2 linked regions of the Homo sapiens genome follow. The protein of the gene in region 1 purifies or fractionates together with the protein of each later gene. This does not show direct contact. Each region holds a gene or a part of one and is shown on either strand. Other genes may lie near its edges.

Region 1 (3,349 bases):
TCAGGGCCTAGTCATTTCCCTCAGTCTTCCATGAACGCAGACACTGTTGATCTTGTGACTCTGTGCTGTGAAAATAGGAAAATATAGCAAGTAGGGTGTTACTCTCATATTCATGGTCCAAGACTGGTTTGCTTCCACATCATCAGGCCCGGCAACCTTATGGAGTGAAGTGAGGAAAGGGGCAAGCCTCTTTAAGGACCAACCCAGAAGTTCTACACCTGTTTCCCACACATTCCAGTGGCTAGAACTTAGTCACAGGACCACAGCTAGATGCAAGGGCGTCTAGGAGATCTCACCCAGCCATATGCTGGATAAAAAGGAAGAGCAGACAGCTAGCAGTCTGTTATTTGGGGTGGAGTGGATAACGAATGACTGTCTCTTAGCTTTAGTGTATCTAGATGGATCTTTACCCCAGGCAGTTGACAATATAGGTTGAAAGCTTTTGAAAAAGGTAGCATCTTAGATACAGTTTGAAGAGGCATCAGCTTATAAACTATAGTTATAACCTTTTATATGGTTAGTCTTCTTTTGTCTGCCTCCACGTCGTTCATGTGGGCAACACATCCCACCAGCAGAATTGCAGAGTTTGGAGAGGAAGGAAACCTGCTACTCTTATCCACTTTTGAGAGTCACTGAGGTAGATGACATTTGATATCTAGGACCCAGGCAGACATACAGACTGGAAGGTGGCCAAGACTCCTGGGGAACAGGAATACCACAGACATAGTACCCTGTAGCTTTTCATAGGAAAAACTGGCAGAGCGTGCCTGGCACTTGCAACATAAAGGTTCTGGGGAGTGGCTGCAGTGATGCGGCTGTAGAGTCAAAATCTGCTTGAGGGAAAATCCCTGATTATGCAGAGCAGATGAGCTTTGGGTTATATTTTTTCTGGTGCATGAATGGGCCACATGTTTCTATTTAAGTAGTATTCCAGCCTGCCTTGTTAATATCTTTGTGAAGTGTTTCGTGCCAACACTAAAAATATTCTGATTTTAGGGTACCCAGTTCACACATTTCACCCATAAGGAAATGAAGATAACCCTTTCTAGATTTTTATATAAACAGTTTAAGGAAAAGTATCCAATAGAAACCAGTGTTTTCAAGAATTCAACAGTGTCCTTAAAGTTCCCAAGTTACTTTACAATTTTTTTTTCATTCTTTAGGCACCAATAGCCCAAATGAATTAAGAACTATTTCCTACATAACTTTCTATTTTCCTCCTTTAACACTTTTAAAAAGGACTATTTTCAGAAGGACAATTATTTTGTACTTTGTGAGAAAATTTCCAAGGTGTTTATATTGTTTTATGTGTCTGTCATAGGAAGGAAAATCACCTCGGCAGTGTTTGAAGGAAGGATACTGCAACTCTTTGAAGTACGCATTTTTTGAGTGTAAAAGATCAGTGGTAAGTGGTTAAAGATTTTTAAAAGCCTATGCTAAAAATTAGCTATAGGGAGGTTAAATATATGAATGACTTAATAGTTATAGGTAAGTTGCAGTGATATGGTTTGGAAAAAATTACATAGATAATATTTCTTCCTCCAGTGAGTTAACGTTAGGTAGCGTTCATAAAAACCCACAGCTCATTGTTATGTTCTTCTGTCACCGTGCTAACTACAGCTGCTGAACTTCATGCATTTCTGAAAGTGTGAGAATGAAGTCTCGGCAGGTATATACGGGTAAAAGTTGATGTTGGCCACTCGAGTTCAGATCAGTTGGCAATTGTATACAAACATATAATGTGGAGCTCCAAGGTGTATACATTTGTGCCTTATGTGACTAAGAGAAAATGTCAGTATCTGTGTTTGAATTTTGGAGGGATGGATTGTAGAAATAGGGCCTAAAAAGAGATTACAAATCTCTGGGGTTCATTCTAACATTCTTTGATTTGGAAGATGTATGGAGATCTTTGGAATGGAAACTGAGACCCTTTTCTTGGAGAAATGTATAAAACCAAAAATATGAGCATCCCATTAAAGGAAGAAAGCACTTGGACTTGAGGATGTTTTTTTTTTGTTTTTTGTTTTTTGTTTGAGACGGAGTCTCACTTTGTCACCAGGCTGGAGTGCAGTGGCGCAATCTCAGATCACTGCAACCTCTGCCTCCTGGGTTCAAGAGATTCTCCTGCCTCAGCCTCCTGAGTAGCTGGGATTACAGGCGCCTGCCACTGTGCCCAGCTAATTTTTGTATTTTTTTAGTAGAGATGGGATTTCACCATGTTGGCCAGGCTGGTCTTGAACTCCTGACCTCAGGTGATCTGCCTGCCTCGGCTTCCCAAAGTGCTGGGATTACAGGAGTGAGCCACCACACCTGGCCTTGAGCATGCTTTTGTTTGCTTAGGAACTACACTGCAAATCCCTTCCTTTTTGTTAACAAAAGAAATGGAGGGTACTGATACTTACGACCTGCAAGTGGTTGTAAACAAAGAACTTGGAGCATGTTTGCCAGCTAATCAGATCCAGGGAGGGTGTAAAGTTAGATTAAATTTGGCCCTGCTCTGTTTACTTTCTTAAGTGACATCTTTTCCTGTCATTCAGTGTGAATAGAGGAGGATTTTCTTGCCTTCTCTCACATAGATTTGTTACCCATGTAAAATGCAAACCTTTAACTTTGTCAAGAATTTCAAAGCGTGTGCAGTAAACCCTCTGAAATTCTCTACCTAAAGCTCAGTCTTCGATCTCCAAAGAACGAAGTCAGATTTTTTTTTATTTTTACAATTTATCTACTTTCAGCAGAAATTTTTAACAATCTTACATAAAAAGTAAAATGATCTTACCATTTCTAAATATCAGTACAAGGCAGAGTTTCACATATACTTTGACACTGAGAAGAGCACCTTAGGGACCCTTTTTTTTTTTTTTTTTGAGATGGAGTCTCGCTCTGTTGCCCGGGCTGGAGTGCAGTAGTGTGATCTTGGCTCGCTGCAACCTCTGCGTCCTGGGTTCAAGTGATTCTCGTGCTTCAGCCTCCCGAGTAGCTGGGACTACAGGCAGCTGCCACCATGCCCAGCTAAGTTTTATATTTTTAGTAGAGATGGGGTTTCGCCATGTTGGCCAGGCTGGTCTCAAACTCCTGATCCACCCACCTCTCCCTCCCAGAGTGCTGGGATTACAGGCATGAGCCATTAACACCCGACCAGCTTAGGGACCTTTTTATAATCTTTCTCCAAGACCATGTTTTACTGTTAGTCCTCCAAAATGAGTAGAGTCATATCGCTGTTAATGCAACTTGTTATACATGCTTGGCAAAAAACCCAGAAATATAAACATTTAAATTGTGTGGGTAATTTTGTATGCTATTAAAGTGAGTGTGCATCTTATTGAAGGTGAGATGGGAAGTTTGAATCTGC
Region 2 (3,500 bases), on another chromosome or scaffold:
AGTGATTTTCAATTGACCCTGAACATGTCTGATCTTGTTTGATCTCAGAAGCTAAGCAGGATTGAGCCTGGCTAGTACTTGGATGGGAGACCTGGCCATTTTTATGTTGTGACTCTCTGGGTCTCATTCAAATATTCAAATATCAGAGAAAGTGTGTGCACTACCTATTACTGCCAGCTGGTGGTGGAAGTTGAGGTTCCCCCACTCAGCTTCTCTTGATGCGATAGGGTGAAAGCCCAAGCTCCCTTCACAGTCTCAACTGACATCACAGTGCATGGAATTTCATTTTTGGCCAGTAGGAATGAAAGCACCATTCTTCACTCTGTCTTTTCTGACACCATCCCAGTGAATGGTGTTGTGTACCTCCCTAGAGCCTGACAAGGGGGCAGTCTAAGCTCTCTTCTTGGCCTTTGGTGGTCCGTGTGGAAGTAGAGTTGCAATTTCTTCTGTGGTGTTTGGCTAAGATAGAGTGGTTACTATCTAAAAGTTTTCTGTCCTGCTAGGCTGACCCTTTCATGGTCCTTTGGTTAGAGAGAGAAGGCTTTTCTCAGGACTTTTGTTGTCCATTGATGTAACTAGATCACCAGCTTGCCCAACACTGATCTAATATATGAAGCAAAAAGAAAATCCAGGAACTCACTGCTGTGTCATTTCTCAGGTCCCAAGATTCCTAACCAATCATTTCTCTTTTCACCAATTTGGGTCTTTTTATATTTGTTTTATATATAATGTCCAGGGTTTTTAGCTGCAATTAACAGGAAGGCTAGGGAAAAGTATTTTTTTTCTTTTTTCTTTCTTTTTTTTTTTTGTGAAGCAACAAAAGTAGAGATTTATTGAAAATGAAAGCACACTCCACAGGGTGGGAGTGGGCTGAGCAATTGGCTCAAGTGCACAGTTATATAATTTTATGTGGTTTAAATGTCCTCTAGAGGTTTCCCATTGGTAACTTGGTGTACACTCTATGTAAATGAAGTAGTGGCCCGTTATCAGTCGGATTGGTTGCAGAAAGTGACCAATCAGAGGCTGAAGTTACAAAGTTAAACCTTAAACAACGTCTGATTGGTTGTGGAAAGTATTTTTACTCCATCTTCCCAGAAGCTGAAGTTGTCTGTTTTTTAAACCATTTTTCTTTAAAGAAATAAGAATAATCTAGTAAAAGAGTTTCCCCTCTCTTTAAAATTTGAGATAAGCCAGGTGCAGTGGCTCACACCTGTAATCCCAGCACTTTAGGAGGCCAAGGCTGGTGGATCACTTGAGGTCAGGAGTTCGAGACCAGCCTGGCCAACACAGTGAAATCCGTTCTCTACTCAAAATACAAAAATTCACCAGGTGTGTTGGTGCATACCTGTAGTCCCAGCTACTTGGGAGGCTGAGGTGGAAGAATTGCTTGAACCCAGGGGGCAGAGATTGCAGTGAACTGAGATCATGCCACTACACTCCAGCCTAGGCGACAGAGTGAGACTCTGGTAAAAAAACAAAAACAAAACAAAAAAAACCAAAAATATTTAGATAGCTCTATACTTTAAAGTTAAACTTAATTATAATTATATTCTTCTCACCTCAGGCAAAATTCAGGCAGTTGGCAATACACTTAGGGAGATTCATTTTATTATTTGATTATTGACTGTCTCATCTCTTCTAATCTTTTAAATAAAGAATAATGTAAAAATTAAATTTTGCTGATAGAATTCTACTTTGTGACAAAGATGATACTTTATCATGGAAAAAATAATAAATATTTGTTATAAATACTAGCTATGCTATCTTCAGGAATATTATTTGGATTACTTAAACACACTATTGACAAAATGCCTTATATCACCTTTCTAATTTGCCATATCAAAGTAAAATTATTAATAAGTTTGCTAGTAGGAAAAAAAAAACTTTCACTTATATTGCCTATTTTCAAATGTTAATAAAACTAAACCATTAATCCTTTCTTCCTGCAGATGAGGGGTATGTCTGATAAGTCACTCCGACTAGTGCTGTCCACATTTAGCAACATACGGGAGGAGCTTGGACATCTTCAAAATGATATGACAGTAAGATTTATTTTGATTTTTTCCAAAGCCTTTCTAGTTACTAGCTTCCTAATACAGAAATAAAGATGTCCAGTATATGTTTTTAAAATTTAATATAGCACAATATTATGCTTATTCAGACAAAGCTAAATTATTTTCTTCAAACAGTTAATTGGCATTGAGAGAGGAGAAAAGAGGTATCCAAAGTATAAATGAAAGAATGTTGGATGTGCACTTATCATTTAGTTTACCACTAAGGCAATTTAATGCTTAAAGCCAGAGAGTCATCTGCAAAGTTAAAATAATCTGACTCATTGGAGGTAAATTCCCCCTTTTTCATAATTATAAAGCATACTCTGAATTTCCATTCAAATATAATAACTTGAAAACATTTTTCTCCAAAAAATTAATTTTTTTCCATTTTCTATTTTAATTGGTGTTCTTGGTGCCATCAGCTAGATACATTCAGAATGCTTTCCACACATTGAATAATGCCTTGAGGACTTTGGAGTAGTTTTGTTGTTTCTGGGTTATGATGAACATATTTAGACTCTAATTTAAAAATTTACCACTCGCTGGGATTAACGAGGACTCTTTGTAGATTGGAGGAAAACATTAAAACATTTCAGAGGGTTGTGCTTCATTTCATGTATAGTTAGTCCATCAAAATGTCTCTTTCAATGAAGGTTTTAGAAGTTTCAATCATTTCCTATCCCGTATTTTCTTAACTTTTAAGAATTCTGCTTTATTAAGCAAGTACAAATGAAACAAGTGCTTATTTAAATCTTCCAAGGTAAGCAAGTCTTTGTATTATGTGACTGTTAAGTTTTTGCAATTCTGAATCATAATAAATAATTTATGCTTCTAGTCACTGGAAAATGACAAGATGAGACTTGAGAAAGATTTATCATTCAAAGACACTCAATTAAAAGAGTACGAAGAACTCTTGGCATCAGTGAGAGCAAATAATCACCAGCAGCAGGTAAACTGATGCTTTTATTGGTGTTAATCTACATTGATAGCTTTTCATATGCACAATTACTGGCACATTGGAGTTATGAGATATAATCAAGACAGAATTAAATATGATGGAAAAATTTGTTCATATGAGAATTGAGTGGCTTTGGGTATTTCTAATGGCTGAAAGCCCTCTCAGAAAAACAGATAATCTTATCTATTTTAGATATAAAGTACATATGGGACACAATTATTTGTCTTGTTGGGTGACCAGAATTGTAGAAATACTAAAAATCTAGGTTCATGCATTTATTTAATGTACTAACATGTCAATGAGAAAAGCTGTTGTAGACCTTAATACATGTTTGTGCAATAAATAAATGACTGAAAAAACTCTAGATGAATTCTCTGGATGTCTGAGCAGAGAGAATTCCTAGGAAATTGTAAGTAGTCTCTAAGGATTACCCTCTTCCTGATCTTTACTCCTATGGCTGTCCCAAATTCTTGCTCAGTTACTAGTTG

The links. Proteins that work in one complex are often made in the same cells at the same time.
Region 2: the proteins of COA5 (region 1) and POF1B purify together in Homo sapiens (affinity purification with mass spectrometry; one large-scale study listed by BioGRID and IntAct). This does not show direct contact.

What each region holds. Positions count from the first base shown.
Region 1 is NC_000002.12:98,602,164-98,605,512, reverse strand, and holds part of COA5 (cytochrome c oxidase assembly factor 5), read left to right. Parts: intron 1-1,321; coding exon 1,322-1,405; intron 1,406-3,349. UniProt on the Homo sapiens protein: Involved in an early step of the mitochondrial complex IV assembly process.
Region 2 is NC_000023.11:85,306,666-85,310,165, reverse strand, and holds part of POF1B (protein POF1B), read left to right. Parts: intron 1-1,949; coding exon 1,950-2,042; intron 2,043-2,889; coding exon 2,890-3,003; intron 3,004-3,500. UniProt on the Homo sapiens protein: Plays a key role in the organization of epithelial monolayers by regulating the actin cytoskeleton. May be involved in ovary development.